Linked DNA regions of Homo sapiens. The protein of the gene in region 4 purifies or fractionates together with the protein of the main gene of each other region. This does not show direct contact. Each region holds a gene or a part of one and is shown on either strand. Other genes may lie near its edges.

Region 1 (4,252 bases), on a different chromosome or scaffold from region 4:
CCTGTTAATATGAACGGTTATTCCCACTTTACTATTATTTTATTATTATTTTAATCTTCTTCCACTTGGACCTTTATTTTTATTTTTGAGATAGGGTCTCGTGATCATGGCTCACTATAGCCTCAAACTCCTGGGCTCAAGAGATCCTTCTTGGCTGGGCGCGGTGGCTCACGCCTGTAATTCTAGCACTTTGGGAGGCCGAGGTGGGCGGATCACCTGAGATCAGGAGTTTGATACCAGCCTGGCCAACATGGCGAAACCCCGTCTCTACTAAAAATACAAAAATTAGCCGGGCGTGGTGACATGTGCCTGTAATCCCAGCTACTCGGGAGGCTGAGGCAGGGAGAATTACTTGAACCCGGGAGGTGGAGGTTGCAGTGAGCCGAGATTGCGCCACTGGACTCCAGCCTGGGTAACAGAGCATGATTCTTTCTCAAAAAAAAAAAAAAGAGAGAGAGAGAGAGATCCTTCTGCCTCAGCCTCCTTGAGTAGCTGGGACTACAGTCATGAGCCACCACACCTGGTACACTTAGACTTTCATTCCATGCTCCTTCCTGGCTTCCTGCCCTTTTTGATTCCCCCACTCCTGCTCCTAGCCCTCCAGAGGAGTCTTCCCAGCCCCTCAATATGGGCATGTCCTCTCCTGCTCCAGCACCTTCCATAGCTCCCCATCACCCTAGGGGGAAAGTCTAACCTCTTCAAAATCAGCACTGAAGGCCCTGGAAGCATTAAGTCCTGGCCATCAGCCTCTAGTGCTAAGAAATAGGTTCAAGTTCTTGTTTCCCCATATAAACAGGTAAGAAAGGCTACATGCCTCTGGGCCTTTGCACGTGCTGTGGCCTCTGCCCGGAATGCCCTCATTCAGTCGGGGAATCCGTGCTCATCCCTCCACCTTCGTGGAGGGACGCCTGTGCTGGGTTGGTTTGGAGAGGAAGCCGGAACTGCGTGGGTTCAAATCCTGTCTGACTCTGTCACCTATACTTTGTGAAACCCGGACAGTGGCTATGCTTCTCTGAACCTCAGTTTCCCCTTTTGTAACATAGAACTTACCATCAGGAAATGTTTGACCCCCCCACCATGGAACAGGCCCCACTTCTTGACGTCAGCAGCACCCCCATTCGCCTACCCGGAGGCGGTTTCTCTATTTTAAGAGGCTGCGGGCGGGTTGGCATCTAACTGGGGCTGGAGGCGGGACTGCCCCCCCACCAACACCACGCTGCTCGCCAATCCCGCCCCGCCCCCTCCTTTCCGCCCAAGTCCCCCACTCTTGCCTCTGGCCTCAGCGCCTCCAGTTCTGCCCCACCCCCGCGCGGCCAGAGACCGGGTGTCTCTGATCTGCAGCTCAGCCCGTGCCTTCCCTGACCACTCCCGACCTGGCTTCCCATCACCTGCTGAGTTCGCAGTCCCGCAGCTACCGGTGCGGCTCCAGGTTGGAGACCCGCCGGCCCCATTCCTCTCACCCCCTCAACCCGCCCGGAGCTAACCTCAGTCCCCGACCCCCACCCCACCTGCTCAGTCCTCCCTAGGTTCCAGCTTCTGTCAACCTCTTTCATTTCCCTAAATACCGCCCCCCGCTGCAATGCCTCGCCACCCTTGGCTGCCTCCTCTACCCCAGGGCTCCCAGCAATGACTGGGTCAGGCGCCTCCTTCACTTGCTGTGAGTCCCTTATCACAACTGATCACTCCGTGGGGTCACCGCTGCTCTGGCGTCTACCTCCCCCAACAGGTTGGGGTTTCTAGGAGGGCAGCTCCAGAGGTTGCAGAACACTCCGCTGCCTCTCCAGAGCCAGGCACACAGCAGGCGCTCCATAAATGTTCGTTGGGTAAGTGCTGAATCCCAGGTTCCCTACCTGAAAACTTGGTGGCTTCTTAAGGGTGTGGTCTAAGTCCCAGAGGAAAATGGCCAAATCTTAATTCCTGTTTTTCTTTTCTTATAATGGGGACACTGAGGCCCAGAGAAGTCAAAGGGTGGCTGCCCGGGGTCATGTAGTCCCTGTGTGGCTTCAAACTTAGGCTTCTGCTGTCCCCGACGCCTGTGTCCCTACCTCCTGATGACACAGCCTCCTAAACATAAACTCAGTAAAAGGAGGACCCTATGGCTCATTGGAAAACTGAGGCCCAGAGAAGCAAGGGTGCCCTCCCCCCAGGTCACACTGCTGGTTGGCAGCGCCTTGTGCCGTAAGAGAGCTGGTTGAGGGCGCAGATCGAATCCCAGCTAGGCGACCTCTGGAGAGTGGCTTTCCGGGACTAGAGCCTCAGTTTCCTTATTCTGACAAATGGGCGCCTGACAGCCCCAACCTCCCCAGGTCGTCGTAGGGCTGAGCTGAGGGTGTACAGTGGTGCAGCGACGACCCAAGGAGGTATTAATACATATGAACTCATATTAATACATCGCTAGTAATAGGACTAAAACAACCATGAACATATGGTGAGCTCTCTGGCTGCTGTTGCTAGCATTATTATTAGAACAGCTGGTGGGGAGGGGCAGAGCCCTCAGCCTCTTCCTCCCACGCCATCGCTTGGAGCCTCAGTTTCCCTAGATGTCCAAGGGGGCACCTTCCCCCTTCCCACCATGAGAAAAAGCACTTTGAGAAGCGGGTGGTCAAAAAGAAGCGATCTGAGCGTTCCCCACCCTCTGCCTCAGTTTCCCTACAGCCCGTGAAGGCCCCGCCCCTCCCGGCACCTTTCAGGCCGCGTCCACTTGGCCGCGCCCTCTGCCTTCCGCCCGCCCGCGCAGGGGCCTCACCTGGAGCCCGCGGCGCCGCAGGAGGCTCGACTCGTCCATGGCCCGGGAGTCCGCGCCGCCAGGCCCGCCCCCGGCCCCGCCCCGGCCTGCCAGGCCCCGCCGCCAGGTGCCATTGGCCAGGCCGGTCAGCTGACACGGCCTGGCCCCGCCCCTCCCGGGGAGCCCGACCACAGGGCCCCGCCCCCACTGGGCGAGCTGGCCCCGCCCCTCCAGCAGAGCGCAGAAGTAAATATTTTGCATGAATCCTCTCAGAAGTAAGGCAGCATCGTTCAGCCCCATTTTGCAGATGAAGAAACTGAGGCTAAGATAGGTTAATCAATATGCCCAGCGCATTGGCCGGGCGCAGTGGCTCACGCCTGTATCCCAGCACTTTGGGAGGCCGAGGTGGGCAGATCACTTGAGGTCAGGAGTTCGAGATCACCCTGGCCAACATGGTGAAACCCTGTCTCTACTAAACAAAAAAAACCAAAACAAAACAAAAAAAAAATTACTTGGGGGTGGTGACGCGCGCCTGTAATCCCAGCTACTCAGAAGACTGAGGCAGGAGAATCGCTTGAATCCAAGAGGCGGAGGTTACAGTGAGCCGGGATAGCGCCGCTGCACTCCAGACTGGGCGACAGAGCGAGACTCTGTCTCAAAAACAAAAACAAAACAACAACAAAAAATGTGCCCAGTACACACAGCAGAACGGGTTCTAGGGTGAGGCGAGTGAGGATCTCACCCCTGTGCAAAATTTAAGGTGGCCCCACAAAACTCAGCCATCAAGAGAAATAATATTTTAAAAACATAAAATTAATGAAAACATTTATGATGAACAAAACATCAAAACTTTTATTTTTTATTTTATTTTTAGAGACGGGGATCTCACTATGTTGCCCAGGCTGGTCTTGAACTCCTGGCCTCAAAAGATCCTTCTGCCTAGGCCTCCCAAAGTGTTGGGATTACAGGTGTCAGCCACCGCATATGGCCAAAACACCAAAACTTTTTTTTTTTTTTTTTAATTTATGAGACGAGTCTCTCTGTTGCCCAGACTAGAATGCAGTGGCATGATCTCGGCAACCCCTGCCTCCTGGGTTCAAGCTATTCTCATGCCTCAGCCTCCCTAGTAGCTGGGACTACAGGTGCCCACCACCACACCAGGCTGATTTTTTGTATTTTTGGTAGAGATGAGGTCTCACCATGTTGGCCAGGCTTGTCTCGAACTCCTGGCCTCAGGTGATTCACCCACCTTAGCCTCCCAAAGTTCTGGGATTGCAGGCCAAAGAGTTTTGGTGTTTTGCCTGGCCAAAACACTAAAACTCTTAAGACATGATCAGACCCTTGTCCTTGCACCACTCAGCCTTGTTTGCCTCCCTTTAATCCTGGCCCTGGTGCCAATAAAACTTTACTTACAAAAGCAGGTAGCCGCTGCAGTTGTCAGTTTCTTTTTTGAGGATGATTGCCTTTTTGCCCTAAGTGTCTCATAAACACCATCTCTCACAGATATTTGAAGATAATTGTTCTACT
Region 2 (3,500 bases), on a different chromosome or scaffold from region 4:
ATTGTGAATATATAATCTTATAGTTCTTTTCAAGCAATCTAATAACCTATAATTGACATAATAGACAGTTAATATAGCATTATAGTTGCTGAACAATATTTTAAAGCCTTATTTCAAAGTTACCTGAATAATACCACAGAAGAATATTCCAAATTTTATGGAAAAAGGACAGTTACCTGCTAATGCATAAATTCCTTTAGAACAATCTTGGTTCTTTCCTGAAAAGTCACCACCCATAGTCTATATTTTAAAAAGAAAATAAAGAACAGACATTACTCAGGAATAACTCTTAAGAATTTAGTTCACAGAATTAAGCTATAAGGAAAAGAAACTGTAGCTTCGTACCAGAATGTAACTTTAATAAATTACTTACATGAGTTTTTCCACTTCCAGTCTGCCCATAAGCAAAGCATGTAGCCATTCCCCTTTCAAATATAGTTTCCACTAGTGGTCTAGCAGTAAACCTTAAAAATAAAATGCATCAGTCAGAATGTGTCACCAATATTTTGATGAATAATAGTAATGCTGAGTAATACAAAGTATTTTATTAATAAATAAAACTTAATAGCAAGATTCTAAACAAATCTTTGTTAAAAATTTTAAATAACAATATCGAAGAATTGATTTAAGAATTTTAAATATCATATGCTAAAATTACTTAAACTACTTAAAGCATAATTTCAAGCAATATTTCCATAATAAATAATGGTCACAATAAGGCATATACAATAAAAACAAACACAAAGTATTATAATTTCAACAGAAACAGAATAAACAAGAGTGGTAATCTCAATTTTAAAAAGTTAATAGAGGAAAAAAACTGCAAAAATATTATCTATAGACCATCTAAATAAATAGAAAAATGTTGATTACCTTGAATTTAGACAAGTAATTTATACTTAAGCAAAAAGAATATAAATTGTGCTTGTAGGAAAATGAATTCTATTAGTAAGTTGACACTCTCAATTTAGGAAAAGGATACCTAAATATTATGGTTTGAATTACATTTTTTTTTTTTTGAGACGAAGTCTCGTTCTCGTCCCCCAGGCTGGAGTGCAAATGGCGCGATCTCAGCTCACTGCAACCTCCGCCTCCCGGGTTCAAGTGATTCTCCTGCCTCAGCCTCCCGAGTAGCTGGGATTACAGGCACCTGCCACCACACCCAGCTAATTTCTGTATTTTTAGTAGAGACGTGGTTTCACCACGTTGGTCAGGCTGGTCTCAAACTCCTGACCACAGGCGATCTGCCCGCCTTGGCCTCCCAAAGTGCTGGGATTACAGGCATGAGCCACCGCACCCGGCCTTGAATTATATTTCAAATGTATTGGTATAACCCACTGCTAGAGTTAAAATAAAAAGGTGGGAAGGTATAAGAAGTACTTTTCCCCTGAGCAGTACACTAAAAAGTATGATGGAGGCCAGGCGTGGTGGCTCATGCCTGTAATCCCAACACTTTGGGAGGCTGAGGTGGGTGGATCACTTGAGGTCAGGAGTTCGAGACCGGCCTGACCAACATGGTGAAACCCCGTCTCTACTAAAAATACAAAATTAGCTGAACGTGGTGGCACACGCCTGTAATCCCAGCTACTCAGGAGGCTGAGGCAGGAGAATCGCTTGAACTGGGAGGCAGAGGTTGCAGTGAGCCGAGATCATGCCACTGCACTCCAGCCTGGGCGACAAGAGCAAAACTCAGCCTCAAAAAAACAAAAAAAAAAAAAGATGGAAAACAGATCTACAAGTAGAACATTTTATATAACTGCTGTCTTTGTTTTGTTTTGTAAAAGGCAAAACTGAAGAAAGTACAGAACAAAAGGAGCAGGAAAAAGTTCTGGTCAAACAGAACTAGGGATGAGCCTGCTAAGTAGATCAAACCCCTACCTCCCAACCCTACCCACAAAAAAACATGTAACTCCTCAATCCATAATAGTTAAGTATAAGAGATAGAGGAGAAGGATAAATATTGATAAAGTTAAGAAACATAAACATAGGGTAAAAACACAATGTTTACTAAATCATACACACAGAAACATGCCTGTATTTGTAATAATTTCTTAAAAACTATTATAAAAGTCAAACTTATATTTTATGAGGCAGGAGTAGAAAGAGGGAATGAAAAGGAAAAGTGGACTCTTCAGAAAGCTAAAAAAAAATTCTACAATTAACAATTATGATTCCCCTTTAAACATATTCTTCACAAATATCTCTATCTAGTATTCATATGTCCTTTAATTTGATCCTTTTTTTTTTTACAACTGACTACCCAGTACACTTGGTGAAGACAAAAAGAGTTGGTCTCAAAAGTATTTCCTTTGTAACACCTTCAATTCTTAGTCTCATTAACTCTAATTTTTTCCTTTCTAGGCATTTTTATGAAAAAGGGCAATCAGATATAGTATTCAAGCAATTACAAAGACAGTAATATTCCTAGATAAACCAAAATAACAATACTGCTAAAACTGGTGTTATAATTATTAGAAATGAATGTTTGCAAACTTACGTATGAAAATCTAAATCTGGCATAAAAATTTGAGATACCAATGTATAACACAGATAAATTTGAATTATTTTTAAGTTGAATACAGAAAACATACAAGAATCTCATGTACTAAAACTATCTCCAAGCTTAAAGATGACAAATTTAAATACAAGTACGGAACTTTTTCGCCTTAAGTGACAATACATACTAAATACAGATTTAGATAAATTAATAATTAACTGATAACAGGTATTTTGGCCAGGCATAACAGTGGCTCATGCCTGTAATCCCAGCACTTTGGGAAGCCAAGGCGGGCAGATCACTTGAGCTCAGGAGTCTGAGGTTAGCCTGGGCAACATGGCGAAACCTCAACTCTACAAAAAGTACAAAAATTAGCTGGGTGTGGTGGTGCATGCCTGTGGTCCCAGCTACTCAGGAGGCTGAGATGGGAGGATCACCTGAGCCTGGAAGGTCGAGGCTGCAGTGAGCTGTGATCGTGCCACTGCACTCCAGCCTGGGCAACAGAGCAAGACCATGCCTCAAACAAACATTTCAAGTTTCTTTATTAGTACAGAGATTAAAAGGTAAAAATTAAAAGTCTTCTTATCATATCCTATTCCTAGAGGTAATGTTAACATTTTCCCGAAATTTCTTATCCATATACATGGTTTGTGTGATATGTATATATATGTATATATATGTGTAATAAGCTAATTAGCAAATAGTAATGGAAACTATGATTTTGGGGAGCATTACAGAGAACAAGTGTTAATATTCATTACAGCATTTATTACATTCTCTTTGTTTAAACTCAGAATAAAACAGCATATTGCACCTCTTAAGAAATATCCCACAATCAATGTAAATTTCAAGGTGCTGATGACCACATGGCATAAGAACAAAATTCTGATTTAAAATGAATTTACCTACCTGTAAACCATTTCATTAGGAGCTGAGTCATCAAAGGCATAATCAAAACGAAATGTTTGGTTTTCTAGGTACCTTGTTAAATCTACTTTTTGTT
Region 3 (2,254 bases), on a different chromosome or scaffold from region 4:
GATTCTAGAGTCAGAATGCCTGTGTTTGAGTCCTGGTTCCACCAGTCATCAGCCAGGTAGTCGGGATCAGGTTATTTAGCTATTTTTAATCTTTTTTTCTTTTCGTGCCTCATTTTCCTCACTTATAAAATGGGTATGTTAAAAATAGCACCTACCGGCTGGACGCAGTGGCTCACGCCTGTAATCCCAGCACTTTGGGAGGCCGAGGTGGGTGGATCACAAGGTCAGGAGTTCAAGACCAGCTTGGCCAAGATGGTGAAACCCCATCTCTATTAAAAATAGAAAACTTAGCCGGGTATGGTGGCGGGCACCTGTAATCCTAGCTACTTGGGACGCTGAAGCAGAGAACTGCTTGAACCCGGGAGGCGGAGGTTGCAGTGAGCCAAGGTCGCACCACCGCACTTCAGCCTGGGTGACAGAGCGAGACTCCGTCTCAACAAAAAAGAAAAAGCACCTACCTCATAGATTGTTGTAAGAATGATAGATAGATATAAAATAATTAGAACAGTGCCTGGAGTATAGCAAGAACTCAATCATGGTTGCTGTACTATTTAGAAAAAAACAATTGTGGTGAGATTGCTCTTTTTAAGCTAGTGGCTGTTAAGTATCATTCATGTTATATTTTTAAAAGTATGAAATGACCTTTCTACTTCATTTACAGAGTTGAAACTGTGGGACAGCCAGACAGAAGAGATAGCATAGGAGTGTGTGCAGAAAAACAGGATGGATATGACTCTCTGCAGCGGGATCAAGCTGTGTGCATTAGTACAAATGGTAAGAGATAAATAACTGTCATTCTCTTGGAAATATATTAATTATTTTAGTAATATGTGAATCTGTTCCAGTTCCATACATTTATAGTAGGAGATGAGAAAATTTAGGTATTTTTCTTTTTCTTTTTTTTTTTTTTTATTATGAAGTCTCACTCCATCACTCAGGCTGGAGTACAGTGGCATGATCGTAGCCCGCTGCAGCCTGAAATTCTTGGGCCCAAGCCATCCTCCCACTTCAGCCTCCTGAGTAGCCGGGACTACAGGTGCATGCCACTGTGACTGGCTAATTTTTTTTATTTTTACTTTTTTGTAAAGATAAGTTGTTGCCCAGGTGAGTCTTGACTCCTGGTTTCCAGCAATCCTCCCACCTTGGTGGCCTCCCAAAGTGCTGGGATTACAGGCGTGAGCCACCGTGGCTGGCTGAAAGTTTTGGTCTTAATGACATAATTTATGTGACTACCATGTACCAGGCATTGTTCTAAATTCTACAAATAATAAATCATTCAGTCTACATCCCTAGTGCTCTTTAAAAATCGCTAGCCAGAGGCCGGGCGCGGTGGATCACGCCTCTAATCCCAGCACTTTGGGAGGCCAAGGCGGGCAAATCACGAGGTCAGGAGTTCAAGACCAGCCCGGCCAACATAGTGAAACCCTGTCTCTACTAAAAATACAGAAAATTAGCCAGGTGTGGTGGCGGGTGCCTGTAATCCTAGCTACTTGGGAGGCTGAGGTAGGAAAATCGCTTGAACCCGGGAGGCGGAGGTTGCAGTGAGCCGAGATCATGCCAGGTAACAGTGTGAGACTCCGTCTCAAAAAAAAAAAAAAAAAAAAAAATTCACTAGCAAGACATGTTAATAATATTTTGTGGTGTTGGCTGGGCACGGTGGCTCACGCCTGTAATCCTAGCACTTTGGGAGGCCAAGGTGGGTGGATCACAAGGTCAAGAGATCGAGACCATCCTGGCCAACATGGTGAAACCCTGTCTCCACTACAAATACAAAAATTAGCTGGGCGTGGTGGTACATACCTGTAATCCGAGAGGCTCAGGCAGGAGAACTGCTTAAACCTGGGAGGTGGAGGTTGCAGTGAGTCCAGATCATGCCACTGCACTCCAGCCTGGGCAACAAGAGTGAAACTCTGTCTCCAAAAAAAAAAAAAAAATTGTGTTGGTGAGTCAAGAATTCGGTAGAACAAGATTCTTTCTTGTTTATTCCATAAGAAATAGTCTTGCTATTTCACAGGAGGTAATTTTGTAACACTGTCAAGTTTCTTTTGATGACACTGATATGGGAAACTCATAGTCTCTGCTGGAAGAGTACAACCCTGGACAGAACTCTAAAATCTATGTCCAGTTGGCATTCCAGATTTTTTAAAATCTGAATTAGGAAATGAGCTGTGTTACCAGTAATCTAGAAACTATTTCAGATCTCTTAGTTATTGCTCACATGTAAATGACTCTTTACCTTAACATTTTAGGTGCA
Region 4 (4,160 bases):
CCCGGGCTGGTGTCGAACTTCTGAGCTCAGCCAATCCCCCAGCTTTGGCTTCCCAAAGTGCTGGGATTACAGGTGTGAGCCACCGCGCTTTTTGGTTTCCAATTCTCTTCCCCAAGAGGCCAGGAATTTTTGCATGAGTTGCCGGACACTGAAGTGATTTGGGACAATACATTGTGTGCCAACGACTTCAAGGTCCCTTTTCAACAAAGGACTGGAATCTTACCGAGATAAATCCCAAGACATGTTTGTAGCAATGCAAAGGACCACAGAAATCTAGACAAATTATTTAATTTTGCAGCTACAGAAACCTAGGATCTCAGGGGCTGGGATACTCCTCAGTTATCCAATCGGGCAGGGCCTAAAACCCAGGTTCAGTCGCCTGGCTCCGAGCTTTTTCCATCATACCAGCTGCGTCTCATTAACTCCACCTCCGAAAGTGCTAAGGAAGTTCCCTCCCAGTGCCTACCCAGGCAGGGTGGGGCGATTCTGTGGCATGGAACAAACCGGGAAAACGACATTTTCCAACTCTCAGCACACAGGCTGCTTTTTATCATTCCTACGGGGCGGGAGGGGGCAGGGAGAGAAGGCTAAGACACCGGGTCCAGTACCCAGAGATTCTAGGGAGAGATCTCTGAGATTGCCTACTTGGTGAGGCCACCTTACTTTCTCCTGGTCTGTTTTCCCCTGTGGGGTGGCTGCATGAAACGTCCTGCTTGGAGGGTTCCCCAATATAAGGTGGACTATTCTGAATGTAGGTCGGGGTGAGCAAGTTCCTGCCGCCGCCCCGTCTCTGCGGTCCTCGGAAGTCTAGGTGGGCTCTTCCTTGCCTTGCCTCTTTCTCCCCAACGGCGGGAGCAGCCCAGGGTTGGGGTGGCTGCGGTCGCCTTGCTCTCTCCACTTCCACGTCTCTTACTCCAGGGAGTTTCATCCGGTCCTCCGTCCTCGGCCCCCACCTTTTAAAACATTTTCCAAAACTACCCCATTAAAAGTGTGCGACTTCTCCGGGCCTGCAGAAGGAGCTCCTGCAGCCCGGCATTCCTCGGATTCCAGCGCTGTGACGTCCCCAAGGACGGCGCGCCTCCAGCTCGGGAGCTCGGGAGCTGGGGCTCCACGTTTCAGCGCGCGCCCGCGGCGCCCCCGGCGCGCGCCCTCCCGGGCCGCATTCCTCCCCGCCCCCGGCCGCGCGCCCAGCGCTCCCTCCGCCTCCCGGCCCCCAGGGCCGCGGAGCCCGGCTCTGGGGTGGGGGAGCCGTGGCCGCCGGCGCCTGCTCCGTCCCCTCCCACTCGCACGGCCCCTTCCTCCCTCCTCTCCCGGCCGCTCGCATTTCCTGCCGCTCTGGCTCTCCCGGCCCCTCAAAGTTCTTTCCAACTTTTTCTCGGCGGAGTGAGCGCAGCGGGCGCAGACTCGGGGGCAGGTTGCTGTGCTTCTCCGGGCTCAGCCGCCTGCTCTCCTGGCTCAGGTCCTCGGGGAGCCCTAGACAGACATCAAGTGGCCACTGGCGCTCCTTCCCCTCCCAGCTGAGCCATCCTCCCCGGCCTCCTCGGGCGGGACAGCCCCGTGCTTAGGTTTTTCTCCTTTTCTCCCCCGGTGCGCCTCTGCTCGGACTCTCGCGCCGGGATCGCGGCGGAAACCTCCCTCCCCTTTCGCCTCCTGCGGCTCCTTCCCTTCGCCCCTCCTCCGCCAGTCACTGGAATCAATTCCGTGGGGAATCGGCTCCGCCGCCGCGAAGGACAGCCTTTCCGCGCGGGACTCCGGGGCGCCACGGGGGCCATGTAAGCAGGTAAGCCCCGTCCAAGCCGGGAGTTGGGCCCGAGGTTGGAGGCCGCCTTGGCGCTCCGGGCGCCCTGCAGATGACTTGGGCAGACGCTGGCAACGCCAACTTGCGATTGGCGCCCCGGGACGCCTGGCAGGGCAGCCTGGGGCGCGGGGTGGCCGGGCCGCAGGGGTGTTATCTCGCGGTGGGAGCTGCCCGCGGTGAGGCGCAAAGCTGGTCCCGGGAGCGAGCTGGAAGGTGAGCGCAGTCTGGGGAGTTTGTGGTTAAACCCACACCCTGGTCCCCTCTCTCCATTCCCTTCTGCGTTTTGGGAACGAGAGAGGGCCTCGGAAGGGCAACTAGAGATACCTAGACCTTGGGGGCTAGAGGATGAAAGACGAACGACGTCGCGGTCGCTGCAGCGGTAGGGGGATGCAGCTGCCCGACGCTCCCAATCACACCCCACCACCACCGGGAAGGAATCTTGAGGGGAGCGGAGTTTTCCTGCCCTCTCACTAGGCCCCAGTGGTGCCACCGAACTCCTGGGCGTCGAGGCTCCTACTTGGGTGGTCGAGCTGGCTCGTAGAAAAAAAGCTGTGGCCAAACAATTTCAGATCAGGTCTTCACCTCAAACTTCCAAAGTTGTAGGTATTAACAGCCTCTCCTTCCCCACGTGACCCCCAGATCTCAGGTTTGAATACTTGTAAATGGGGTTTACACCTTTTCGTTTGGAGAGAGCAGTGAGGTAACGCTGCCCCTATCTCCCTTTCCCTCTCACTTCCTTGGGTTCTTGTTCTCCAACCTTCTCATCCCCACCTACAATTTCAGAAATTGTGGGGTTTCCGCTTAAGTCTAGGGACTGGCTGTCGCAGGTTCTTTGTGAAGGTGAGGAATCTCTAGACTGCAGGTGCGGGCAGTTACAGAGTTTCCACCAATGTGTTAACTTCTTGAAATGGATTAGTTTACTCATTCATCCAACAAACCCAGCTTCTACTCTGCTAGGAACAGGATAGAAAGATGCTAAATGAGATCACAGGGCAGGAGTCTGCAGCCTAGTGGAGGAAACTTGAAGGCCGGTGAAGAATGATAATACATGGAAGAGGGGTTCTGTGAGAGTCTGAGGCGAGCTTGGTCCTGGTGAAGGGTGCACTACACTTAGAGGATAGAGGTTGTGCTCCTCTGGAGGGTGTATTCCAGGCAGAGGAAACAGCTCGTGCAGAGTGAACACAAGAAGGACAGAAAGTTTCCCTAGCCATCTGGGGGCCTGAGGGGCATTTATGGCCATGTTGGTGCAGTGTTGCTGGGATAGCATTCTCTCCACCCCCAATATCAGAAATAAATCTAGAAGCACGTTAGCCACTTATGGGAACCACAAGTAGCTTACCGAGGAGCCAAGGCCTCCCTAATTGGATACACCTCCATGCCTGCTGCTGTTTTACCACAAGCAGCTGTTGTATGATCATCTACATTTTAATTGGCCCATGCTCGGTTTCATTAAAATGGTATTGATTCTTCTTTTTTGTCCCCCACATTCAAGCAATGATTCCTTTTTTAAAAAGGCTGTTTGACAGCCGTAGGTGTGGTAATACCGCAGCATTACGGACCTTGTATTATAAAGTTAGCTAATTGTTTGGTGATGAGGTTGAAGCTTGTGCCATAGAAATGACAGCCTTAATGAGCGGGAGCTGAATGGCATGATGCCCTTTTTGCCCAGTCTGAATGGGTGGCCATGAGGTGCAAAATTCGTTCATCTGTATGTCACTAAGTTTGTTATACTTTTCTCTGCTTTTAAGTCATTACTATTGCTTTAGCACAGTTGTGCTAAAGTCGTTCTTTTCTCTGAAACTTTATGAAAATAGAAAACACTATCTTGCACATTTTTGTAGACTAATGGCCCAGGATTCAGCAAATCCTGCCTAGAAAAGTTTCTTACAATGCAGTAGCATTCTGTACGTGGTTTGCCTTTCAAGGGTGTCTCTTCACTGGACTGAAGTGGTGTTGTAGTATTGTTCATAGTGGCTGAGTCCTGGCTGAGGTGGCAGACATCCAGCTTTTGGTGACCTCAGGCCAGTACATCAGAGTGGGAAGAACACACTGACTTCCTACAACTTTGGGTGTTTATCCAAGCCCCTCTACCAGCATCTTTTCTTATCTCAGGAACAGCCCCTTCACAGAAGTTTTCCTGAAGGTGTAGGGACCTGCATGAGAGAAATGGCTGAAGAGAAGCCCACTCCCACTAATCCCAGACATTTGCCCAGTTTCCATCATTGGCTTAAACATGTAATTATTATTAACACTTGAGTTATTCAGATTTGTGCATACTGTGTCATGCTGGTAGCTGTAATAGAAAGGACAGTTAGGCTTTTAATAGGGAAGCACCATAAGGAATTCAGAGAAAAATCAGAAT
Region 5 (3,500 bases), on a different chromosome or scaffold from region 4:
ACGCAAATGAACTATGCTTCAAACGGAGAACACTCTCATTATTTGTCATACAAATAAATGAATGTCAGAAGAAATTTCGTGACAACTATATCTAAAAAACTATAGAATATACTATACCATGTCAGAAGGGAAGAAAGTGGCAATGTTTCACTAGATTAAGATGAAGTTCCTTTCACTCTTCCTTAATTATTATGAACTAGTAATTAACAAATTACGATTTAGCCATATAATTTCATGTATCACGTATTCTATCTACTATCATTAGGCACAAAAAAAATTAAAGAAAGCTAAGAAGCAAACTGAAGAAAAGATAAGTGGATTTAAAAAGCATCAAGTAAATCACTTCTCTGCAATTTCCCCAGCTTTGTGAATCTGTGAATAACTGAGATTTTTTCATTATCAACTTTCTATAACTATTAAAATTGTTTCACACATGAATACGGATGCTCCTTAACCTATGATAGGATTACACCCTGATAAATCCATTATATGTTGAAAATATCTTAAGTCAAAAATGCATCTGATAACTCTCAACCTACCAAACATCATCGCTTAGCCTACCCTACCTTAAGCATGCTCAGAATACTTACATTAGTCTACACTTGAGCAAAAGTATCTAACACAAAGTTTATTTTATAATGAAGTGTTGAATATATCATGTAATTTATTGAATACTATATTGAAAGTAAAAAACAGAACAGTTGTATGGGTACTCAAAGTAAGGTTTCTACTAAATACATATTGCTTTCTCACCATCCTAAAGTCAAAGAATCTTAAGTTGAACTATTATAAATTGGGAAAAGTCTGTATATGAAACCATCAATATTAGCAGAAATTTAAAGGTTAAAAAGTAATAATGCAAAAACTGGTTTTGGATTTAGTTTTTGTCAAAAGCGAAAAATAAATATTTTCCTGCTGTTTGCTTACATTTATATTTAATCTCCTGTCATGTTATAATTAGCTACTTCCATTTCCATTTCCCTCAAAATATTGTAACTCTTTGGAAACAATGGTTTTCAGCCCCATTTTCCACCTGTTGAATTATATCTATCCATGCCTAAATAAAATACGTTCCTATTAAAATTCTCTAAAGGACTTATTTAAGAAATCTGTCAATCAATAATAGAACCTACAATAAAATCTTGAATTATTTGTCCAAAAGTAGAAGCCTAGATAATGTAATATCACATACCAAACAAAAATACATCTTTTTAACTTTGAATTGTGCTCTCAGGTTTGCAAGTGAATATAGCTGTATTATAGCTTCACAGTTGTAATGGAAATGTGTCTCTATGAATGATCAAAAAGAGTGTTTCAATACCATAGTTCCCTAATTAATATCATGATCAATTACTTTAACGATGAAGAAAGAAAGTGACTCAGGTTTTTGAAAAGTCCAGTAAGAAATCAGTGAAGAGCACCAAAATGGTCCAAGTAGAAAGACTAAAGCCTTCTCTTTTATTAAAGTGTAAACTGGGAATGCAAAGTGATTGGCTCCTTCTGTCAATCAGAAAAGCAGGGCTGGTATGGTTTTTACACACAGCTCTAATTGCTTCTTCTTCCTCTTCAATTAGCTAATAACTGAGAATCACACAGGAAAAAGAAAAAATAAAAGAAACAATTGAATAAAAGAATTATTTTTCAGGAAAATCTATGATACCATAGAGAAAGCTATGCTTAGGATCAGAATATATCAAAAATACAGTAATCAGACATGATTTTTAAACATTCAACATTCAGGTATCAGAAATTTACATATGAATTTCAATAAATTATAAATTACATACCTTGGTTACATCAGATTAAGTTCACCTCAGACTAAGCTCTTTGAAAGTTATTGGTAGGTGTCAATAAACCTAAATAGCTTATGAAATTACTTATCACAAAGAAATGAAAATTCTGCTCTGCCACTAGTATCTTCAGAAAAAGCAGTAAGAAGAAAAGAGTTGCTTATGTACAGTTTTAATTCTATTAAAAGGTATAGTTTTATATTAAAGACTACATTATTTATTCTGTACAGTGATTCCATATTGAACACTCTCCATCAAACCTTGCATCTCACATGCCACAGGCATCAACTAACAGATTTCCTCATTAATTTAAGAATGATACAACAGTTTTAACGCTGACTTTGATGGCTAACAACAAAAGATAATAGATTTGCCTTTAGTTTTATTGGACTAAATTTACATATTAAAGAGTCTACAAGAATATCACACCTCTCAAAGATACATCCCTTTGGCTGACTTTAATAAATTCCTCCCATATTTGAATTCTGTACCATCCCTAACTCTCATTCTAGAATACCACTCCCTCTATCACTATATGGGTAATCTGAAAACCACACTCAAACCACACTGTGACACAACTCCTGTTCTCCAGCTTTGCCATACATAACCTTCTAAACCCCTCCTCTTCCCATCAAGTCCCCCAGAGAATTTCTAAGATTACTAACACATACACACACACACACACACACACACACACATACACACACACACATTTAAAATCTCAGCCCTGCCATTTACTAGTCTGTAACCTTGAACAATTTATTTAGCCTCTCTGTACCTTAGTTTCCTCATCTATAAAATGGGAGTAGTAACTACCTCACAGGATTATTATGAGGATTAAATGATCTAATATTTGTAAAGCACTTAGAATAATGACTGACACTTACTGTTTACTGTAATTACTATTAAATATTTTCAATATTACTTTCAAAATGTATAGATTTCACCCCATTAGATTTGAGGATATCATAAAAACAAACATCACTCTTTTTAGAGTGATTCAAATCTCTCCTAGAAACACACTCAAGCAGAAGAGAGCCACACACACACACACACACAAACCTCCAGTGCACAGTATACCAGAATCTTTGGAGAACAAACTTTTGCCCGCTAAGAATGTTATTGTAGAGAAAAAGCTTATGGCAAAATGGGTAATTCAAGCAGAAGTGAAGCACAAACTAACAATTTGCCTGCTACTTTTACAATGAGCAGAGGCATGATATGCAAAAAAAAATGTTTTCAAGGAATTATATTTTCTTGAACAGATTTGAATCTGAAACCACTCTGGAAAGCAACTTGCTCACTTCCTGGACCAATCCATTTACCATGGAAAAAAAGCTTTGCTGAAGTTAGGAAAAAACACTTTCTTTGTACCACTCACTAAAAGTAAAAGTAGTAAGATGATCCCAAATGTTCGCTATTTTATAAATTCACATACTTCTAAATACCAGTTTTTCAATTAGTTAGTTAATAGGAGAATAAATCCCAAAACTCATCAGCAAATTTTCTTCAGATTCTCAGTGGCCAATAATCTCCTTTAAAGAAAACCTTTCTTACTTAAAAAAATACTACTACTATAAGGAAAAAAATAAAAAGATACTAGATGCTATACTGATAATTACTCTAAGTTCAGTTCACCCTCTGAAAATGTAACCTATTTCCAGACAGCTAAATGTGCTTCTCTACCATAAGAACAAATTTCCCTTACCA
Region 6 (3,500 bases), on a different chromosome or scaffold from region 4:
CTTGGTATACATTTAATCCCAGTCTTTTTTCTCCAACTCATTTTAATTGGCGATGATTTCTAAGGCAATGACAGGCTTTATGCCCTGTTCAAACAGGGTCAGTCCTGAGGCAAGTGTAGCCCAGAGTCGGTGACCTTCTCTGCTTGCATAAGATACCAGGCTGCATCCGTGGACGCAAACAGTCCTATTTCCACATTAAATGTCTAAAACAGATAATGACTATTAACCTAAATTGGACTTAAAAAATTAAACTGAACAGATTAGTCCCTGCATATCCTCAAAAATCAGAGAAAGACAATAATCCTTTAAACTCAAAAGGAAGCATCGCAGTGGAACGAGCTGTCAGAAAACCTGTTTTGGTCCAGGGTCATCACTATCTTACCACGTAACCACCGACATGTCATTTGAATTTTCTGGTCCTTAGACTCCAAAGATAAAATTAATGGGTTTGATAGCTATCTAAGGTTCCTTTCAACTCTAAAATTTCATGATCCATTTGTCATTTTCAATTCAAGTACTTTCGGATATCGTGATAGCAAAAGTTTAATTTGCATTTAGAAACGAATATAAACTATGAGATTGAAGAGATAAAATGGACTTTTAAAATTAATGCAGCATGGGTATGAGAAAGAAAATAGAGAATGCTGTAGAATTAGGGACTTTTTCCCTTAGCACATTATTATAAGCTACCTGACAATACCATTAATTTTTTTTCCTTTTTACTCTACACAATAGCACATTCGTATGTCTGAAACTATAAGGATCACAGCCATAAGGCTGAATGTCAACTGTCAGAGGGCAAATGCGAATCGGCTACAACACTGGAAATCTGAGCCTGGAACCTGTAGGGTCACGTGGGGGTTATCTCACAGCGCTCACCTTCCACCAGTTGGTCCAGGCTGGAAATCTTCTTGAGCCCATCAATGGTGTAGATTGTTCTCACTCCCTGGGGCAAATTCACGTTATCCGACAGAGTTCGGGTCAAATCAGCCAGCAGGGCCTCAAAAGATCGGAACCGGTCTGGGGAGATGGCATACACAATCCCTTTGAAGTATCGATCTCCGTTTCGATAGAAACGAACTTTCTTGGCCTTCTTCTCGGAGCTGAGCGTCTGCAGCGTGCGGGTGCGGTAGAAGCTGCAGTGGGCGCTGTGCGTCGGGCTCGGCAGGCCGTTCACCCGCGACCCTCGGCTGTATCTCTGCGCCTTATCCCGCTCGTCGAAGTGCTCCAGCTCCATGTCTCTGCCGAAGGACATGATGGACTTCAAGTAGGACCTACGAGCCCCAGAAACAAAAGCAGACACACATATTGATGTAGGTTATATATATATATATATTTTTTTGTTTTTGTTTTTTTTATGTTAGGGACAGGGTCCTGCTCTGTCACCGGGCTGCAGTGAGATGGCACTCACTGAAGTACTCACTGAAGCCTCACACTCCTGGGCTCAAATGATCCTCCTGCATCAATCTCCCAGAGTATCCGGGACTACTACAGGTTACAGGTGCCTGCACCACGCCTGGTTAATTTCCTTCATTTTTTGTTCATTTGCTTGTTTTTAGTAGTAGTGATGAGGGTCTTGTTTTATTGTCCTGGCTGGTCTTGAATCCCTGGCCTCAAGTGATCCTCCCCCGCCCCCCAACCCCTTTGGCCTCCCAAAGTTTGGGGATGATGTTATTTTGAGATCATGATTTCAAAGGGTCTGCTTCAGAACAGCTGGGTGGAAATATTGCTTTAACTGATGACACATTTAATATGAGTTATCAAGTGGGACAGAAAGAGAAAGGGATGTGAATTCCCACAAAATAAACACAGGCTCCTCTGCACGCTGTCAGCAGAAGAGGCCGATCCCAGTGGAAACAGCTTATTAATCAGCCACAAATTTGTTAGAAGCAGCTCCTAGGTTGCCCATGGTTCATCAGGCTTCAAACAGATATTATTCCCAATAGACACAACAACTTTCCAAAGTATTGTCCTTCCTTACAAAAGAAGAAACTGAGGCACAGAAAAATTTCCCCTAAATTGCTCCAAGTAATACAGTTGAGAAATGCTTGTACCAGCAACTCTGTTCCAGGTTTCCCTGACTCCAAAGCCCACTGCTCCTTGCAGGGCAGAGGGCTAATCCTGGTAGCAGGAAGAAAATAAGCTCTCATATCATCATACAGTGAAAGAGAAGTAGCTATGGTGGGCTGGGACAGAAAGAGAGGGCAGGCAGCATAACAGTCAGATTGTAAAAGTTTTACATAATGTTTGTGTGCCCCATGGCCAGATGGAGAGCAAATTAAATCAATCTGTAGGTTGGACCAACTTAAAGAAGATTTTCCAACATATTCACACATTCAATATTTTTAAAAGCAAATTCACTATACTTCATTTACTTATATTTAGTACTTCAGAAAAGTTGAGTTTAAAAAAAGAAGAAAAAGGAAGAGAAGGAGGAGAAGGAAGAGGAACAACAAGAAAGGAAAAAATGTTTGGAAGTACATTTCTTGGTTCTTCCTTTCATTAAGACTATCTTTGTGATTGAAGAAATTGAGGCTTAAAGATGTCGATTTACACTTGACCCCATGCTAGCTGTGTAAGCTTGAAAAATCTACTTGCTCAGCATCTTTAAGCCTTGATTTCCTCAACCACAAAATGGGAATGAGAACAGTACCTACCTCACAGTCAGTATTAACTATTAAATAAATTCATGCACATGAAGTTCTTATCATAGTGTCTGACATGTGATAAGTACTAATTTTTTTATTAATAAAATCTGTTTTTGTGTTCCTGGCCCTGACACATAAAGAGCTAGCAGGAATAGAATCTTTCCTTTCTGGCAAGAGAGGCCCCTGCTTTCTTCCTGATCTCCATCTCATGACCTTTTGAAAGGTACATCTGTACCCCCTGGTCCCCACAGCAAGCTGACTGGAGGACCAGTTCATCCTTGCTGAGGGGTTGGTTGATAAAGGTTTGTGGAGCCTTGCAGGGGAATCTGTGGTTTAACAAGACAATCTAGAAAGTGGAAAGACCAAAGCATTCAAAGGAAAGACACTTTAATGACAAAATTTCAGGCATGTTGAAATAGAATATCAGGAAAATGGAAAATTTGGAGCAAGAACCTTACAAGCACTCCCCAAGTCCCACCATATTAGATGGACATCACCTTTCTGAAGGTCAGTGAACACTCACCAATGCACCACTGTCTCCCCAACCTTTCTTTGGCCCTCAGTAAACTGACCTCTGATCCATTCAGAGTGGCTAAAATTTCACACCTGAAAGCATGACTAGAGATTTGGTACTCCAGAAATGAAGTGAAAGAAAGCAATATTTACTGAAGGTCTAGGAGGTACCTGACACTATTACTCATCAACCAGTTGTATAATATGCTAAAAATTCTCTTCTAAACCTCATATTAATCCAACAAGGTAGGTAATATTATTAATATTCAGGTGAATATGGAATTTATCCAGGGTCCCAAAATTATAACTGAGGGGTTGAGATTTGAACCCAGATTTACT
Region 7 (4,293 bases), on a different chromosome or scaffold from region 4:
TGCCCACCTCTGCAGCAGGGGAAAGAAGTCCTCTCACCCCAGTTTGAGGGGAGAGGGGAGGTCCAGTGTGGGGACCAACACGAAGGTCACAGCAGACAGTGGAGTCATGCCTGAGAGCCAAGGAGAGTCCCTACCAGGTCACCTGTCTCCCAGTAGCACCACTTACCTGGGGTCGAAGGGCCCCAGAAAGTTTCCATGGTTCCTGGCTTCAGTAAGGGGCTGAAGTCCAAACAAGGAAAGATGACTCAGAACCGGGGGGCCTCCTGGGCTCTTAAGTCCAAATCATGAAGAGTTCAGCCTCTGAAGTCCATGGGCTGGGGAGGCGAGCACGGCCTGCTGCTGTTCCCTGATCCTCCTCCTCCCAGTCTCAGTCTGGAAAAGCCCCGCACCACCTTTGCTGAGAACAAGGCCACACCATGACAGGATGGCCTGCCAGGAGCCCCAAAACCCTATGTTGGGGTGAGGGGAAGGAGAAGCAACAAGACTGGCCTCAGACATGATGCAGGTGAGAAATGGTCTGGTTTTATTGAGAAGCTGTTGGTCATTTGATGGAAAGACACATACGGTACAAAATTACAGGTGGTTTAGTTCATTACATGATACAAATCATTAGAGTCTTTACAAGTCATTAGAGTCTTTGGATTTTTTAAACTCCCATTTACTGTGTACCAAATCAATATAATCACAGAATCAAAGTCACTTCTTTATATGTGAACTCTTCGCATTTACACGAATCCACACATAGAGAAGCTGTTCCAAGACCCCCCAACACCATTAGTGTCTGCAGCCCACCAGGAAGGCACCACGGACTTTGTGGAGAGAAAGATGCTTTGGGGGTTCAATGGGTCAGTATCTTGGGCAGGAAGCACAGGGTGACTCCCGTCTTGTGTGCGTGCGCACAGCCACCAACACACACTCTCAGGACTTCCCGTTTCACATACAGGGAACTTTTAAGGCAAGAGGAGAAAATGCTAGGAAGTAACGGGGGATCAGAACTCCTCCACCTCTCAGGCTCCAGCAGTCACATTCCCAGCTCCGTTCTCTTGTTGAACCTTGGTAGGCCCAGAAACATCTTCCCCCTCCTCACCTCTGCCCTCCCGCTCCCTCTGGTCAGGCCTGGGTACCCAGGAACCCAGTCACACACCTGCCCCCTGTCCCCTCTGCTGCTGGACGCAGTGCCCGGGGCAGAAGTGAGCCTTCTCACCCTGGAGCCTCAGTCCTTCATAAGGGCCCGAGGGAAGTGGCGGGGTGGGGCCAGGGATGTTCTGGGCACACAATGGGGAGGCAGGGCCCCCAGAAGCATCCCCCACCCCCATCTCTGACAGCGCCGCGTGTGCAGTTACTGCCCTTCCCGGCCTTGGGTGCCATCTGCGGGCCGACCCACACTAAGGTGCCACTCCTGGGGCCTTCCAGGAGCGCATCGGGAGTCCTAAGGCGGGTGGGCGGGCAGGCGTTCTTGGGAGGTGAGTCTGCTGGTCAGGGAGGCAAGAAAAGAAGATAGAAGACGGAGGCCAGCCCGCCCTGGCCCACCACTCTGGAGACCGCACCTCCTGCCTGCCAAGTGCTGGCCCGGGGTCAGCGGGGCTCACTGCCTTGGTGACCACGTCACTGCACATCCCTCTTTCCCAGCCACAAGCTGACATTAGTCCGCACCGAGAAGCAAGAGTGAACAGGGCCTGGGCCCAAATCCACCTGCTCAAGTCAGGAACTCTGGCTCGTTCTACTCCACTGTAAGTCAAACCGATGGTAAAAAGCACGACACACACGTCCCCCAGGACTTTCCCAAGATGGTGCTACAGGAGGCCGCTGCTGGGTGGATGGCTCAGCCACCACGAAGTGCCAGGTCCCACCCACGCTGCCCGTCCGCCACCATTCCCAGAGCGTCCCCACTACACGGCCCAGGCGTTTCCCCTCAGGGCAGCAGCAGTGCTGGCCTCTCACCCAGGCCATAGTGACACCAGCGGACCCAAAAACAAACTTCTCAGTGAAACAGGTTTTAAAAAGAAAGCCGCTGTGCTGGGAAGCGGGTTGAGTTAAAGGGCAAGGCAGAGGTGACAGCTCTTCATCCAGGGACAGGTGCCACAGGGTTCCCTCAAAATCGGCTAAGGACAGGGAGAGCCCTGGAGGAGTGCCTCCCCCCAGGGGCCGGGCCCTCTGCCAGCCCGGCCGCAGCCTTCGTGTCCCTCGCCAACTGGGGAGAGAAAGACAACCTGTCCTCGCAGCCAGGGCTGGGACAGGCCCACCATGGAGACTACTCTGTTGGCGCCTTCAAGTCCCTAGAGAACCAGAGCCTTCCGCAGCGCTTTCTAGATGTTGACTAAATGTGAGAACTAGAAACCAGCTCCAAGGGTGGCTGTGTGAATCTTGACCCAGGACTCCTGTCCCTAGATTGGTGGCCTTCCACACATAGACGCTAACCCCCATCCCACAAACCTGGCACCAAAGGCTCTGGGAGCATAAGTGCCCCAGCCAGGAGGTGGAGGCCACCCCGGAAGCTTCCGGCTGTCCCGCCCACACCATGCACGGTGGGCCTGGGGGCGTGGCTGCTGTGAGGGTCTGGAGACTAACCAGCACACTCCCTGCACCAGCCCAGCCGCCAGGCCCCAGCCCCACACTCTGAGAGTCTGGGAGTTGCCGAGAAGTTAAAATGACCCAAAGACCTTCCTAGAAACCAAAAGTGCACCAAATAAAGTAGCAATGCCTCTTCCTTTGTCACCGACTACAGAAGCACATCATTCTCCCAGGTTTTTGCTCTCATCCAAGTTAAGAGTAAGGCCACTGTGGATCCGCAATAGAGGGATGTGAGGAGGGGGCTTTATCCTCTGCCGTCCCCAGGACCCTCCACCTGGGCAGGAGGCCAGCAGCTCTGCAATGGCCAGAGAGGCTGCAACGTGCAAGGCAGGCCCTGGGCCCCCCCACACAGGCAGACGACGATTGCGGCTCGCAAATGATTTCGGATTTTGAAAAAATAAATATAAATAAATACATTCCAAGCCTTCTGTGAAGGGAATAAACGGCAAACATAAGAGACTTTCCAGGTGTCTAAAGATGCCAAAACATCCACAGAGAAACCGCTAAGAAACCCTGGCAGAGGAGGGATGGGGGGGCTCAGGCCCTCGGCCCCCGTCTGGGGCACCAGGACCATCTGCCAGAGCCCAGGGCCCTCCAGAGGCACTTGTGGAACCTGGGACCAGGGTGGGAGGCTGGGGGGTCCCCCAGAGGCACTTTGCGGGAAACTGGGACCAGGGTGGGAGGCTGGGGGGCTTGCGGAGTGAGCCAGGACATCCTGGGTGGGTGGGGGGGCTTGCCCTCCAGTGGGGAGGAAAGGCACTGGTTACAATTATGGTTTAGGTTAAGACATTAGTGGGGCCACCAGAATGGAAATGATAGAAAGAGCAACATAAGGCCCCAGGCACAGGCACACAGCAAGATCACCAGGCGCTGCACCACCCAGGGTCTCAGTCCTAGCATCCCCCAGCCCCTGCGGGCACCCAGAACCTTCCATCCACCTGAGGAGGCACAGTTGAGGCCCCCACTTTACCCGGGTACAGAAGAAACAAAGCTTCCAGAGGCCCAGGGAGGTCACCAGCCCTGTGTCGTGCAAAAAGCATTCATCGCCCTGCCCCTGGGGAAGGGGCCACCGGGCTCCTGGCTCCTCAGGGCTGTCACTGGCAGGGCTCAAAAGGGGCCGGGCACCCCCAGAAAAGTTCGCCCTAAGGCAGCGGCTCAGCTGGCCCAGGATTTCCGGTTCTCAGGGTTCTTGTGGCTCCTGTCGGCCTTGGCCAGGGCAGCTGTCAGCGAGGCCAGGTTGGTGGCGGAGCCCGAGAGGGTGGCGCTCCGGCGGGCCTCGGGGGCACCCAGCCGGAGTCCTGTGCTGCGCCGCCGCACAGGGCCCGTGGCCCTGCGGACCCGGCTGGGCCTGACCAGCAGCCCGTAGCCAGGGTTACACCTGAAGTACTGCTTCCCGCCGATGGAACCGTCATTCTTACCTGCGGGGGAAGGAGAGGGTGATATGGAGGGCAGCCGAGCTGCAGACGGCCCCCTGCACCTCCCTTACCTCTGCAGAGGCCATGTGCCCACACTGCCACCCCCCCGCACAGGCCCTACACAGCCAGCACTCGGACACTGGCCATTGTCTGGCAGGGACTGGCTAAATGAATGTGGCCAGGGCCTGGGGTGACCGCCTCCCAGGACAGTGAGCAGTGGTGACCAAGGATGCACAGCCCCAGTCCTGCAGCCTCAGGTAGGAGGTGACAGGCCCTGGGGGCCCTGGGGAGTGCCTTGTGGAAGCAT

Evidence for each region.
Region 1: the proteins of PTPN14 (region 4) and MAST3 purify together in Homo sapiens (affinity purification with mass spectrometry, with the first as the bait; one large-scale study listed by BioGRID). This does not show direct contact.
Region 2: the proteins of PTPN14 (region 4) and KIF2A purify together in Homo sapiens (affinity purification with mass spectrometry, with the first as the bait; one large-scale study listed by BioGRID). This does not show direct contact.
Region 3: the proteins of PTPN14 (region 4) and CRLF3 purify together in Homo sapiens (affinity purification with mass spectrometry; one large-scale study listed by BioGRID and IntAct). This does not show direct contact.
Region 5: the proteins of PTPN14 (region 4) and ANKRD50 purify together in Homo sapiens (affinity purification with mass spectrometry, with the first as the bait; one large-scale study listed by BioGRID). This does not show direct contact.
Region 6: the proteins of PTPN14 (region 4) and DCLK1 purify together in Homo sapiens (affinity purification with mass spectrometry, with the first as the bait; one large-scale study listed by BioGRID). This does not show direct contact.
Region 7: the proteins of PTPN14 (region 4) and KIF13B purify together in Homo sapiens (affinity purification with mass spectrometry, with the first as the bait; one large-scale study listed by BioGRID). This does not show direct contact.

Annotation. Positions count from the first base shown.
Region 1 is NC_000019.10:18,096,326-18,100,577, reverse strand, and holds the start of MAST3 (microtubule-associated serine/threonine-protein kinase 3), read right to left. Parts: upstream 2,801-4,252; 5' UTR 2,786-2,800; coding exon 2,747-2,785; intron 1,824-2,746; coding exon of another isoform or gene 1,813-1,823; exon of another isoform or gene 1,651-1,812; intron 1-1,650. Other genes in the region: IL12RB1 (interleukin-12 receptor subunit beta-1), read left to right, coding at 1,813-1,823.
Region 2 is NC_000005.10:62,358,206-62,361,705, reverse strand, and holds part of KIF2A (kinesin-like protein KIF2A), read right to left. Parts: coding exon 3,407-3,500; intron 465-3,406; coding exon 374-464; intron 241-373; coding exon 177-240; intron 1-176. UniProt on the Homo sapiens protein: Plus end-directed microtubule-dependent motor required for normal brain development. May regulate microtubule dynamics during axonal growth. Required for normal progression through mitosis. Required for normal congress of chromosomes at the metaphase plate.
Region 3 is NC_000017.11:30,784,439-30,786,692, reverse strand, and holds part of CRLF3 (cytokine receptor-like factor 3), read left to right. Parts: intron 1-661; coding exon 662-774; intron 775-1,800; exon of another isoform or gene 1,801-1,910; intron 1,911-2,249; coding exon 2,250-2,254. UniProt on the Homo sapiens protein: May play a role in the negative regulation of cell cycle progression.
Region 4 is NC_000001.11:214,548,803-214,552,962, reverse strand, and holds the start of PTPN14 (tyrosine-protein phosphatase non-receptor type 14), read left to right. Parts: upstream 1-1,360; 5' UTR 1,361-1,780; exon of another isoform or gene 1,781-2,011; intron 2,012-4,160. UniProt on the Homo sapiens protein: Protein tyrosine phosphatase which may play a role in the regulation of lymphangiogenesis, cell-cell adhesion, cell-matrix adhesion, cell migration, cell growth and also regulates TGF-beta gene expression, thereby modulating epithelial-mesenchymal transition.
Region 5 is NC_000004.12:124,706,233-124,709,732, forward strand, and holds part of ANKRD50 (ankyrin repeat domain-containing protein 50), read right to left. Parts: intron 1-3,500.
Region 6 is NC_000013.11:36,124,883-36,128,382, forward strand, and holds part of DCLK1 (serine/threonine-protein kinase DCLK1), read right to left. Parts: intron 1,275-3,500; 5' UTR 1,256-1,274; coding exon 880-1,255; intron 1-879.
Region 7 is NC_000008.11:29,066,778-29,071,070, forward strand, and holds the end of KIF13B (kinesin-like protein KIF13B), read right to left. Parts: intron 3,990-4,293; coding exon 3,727-3,989; 3' UTR 501-3,726; downstream 1-500. UniProt on the Homo sapiens protein: Involved in reorganization of the cortical cytoskeleton. Regulates axon formation by promoting the formation of extra axons. May be functionally important for the intracellular trafficking of MAGUKs and associated protein complexes.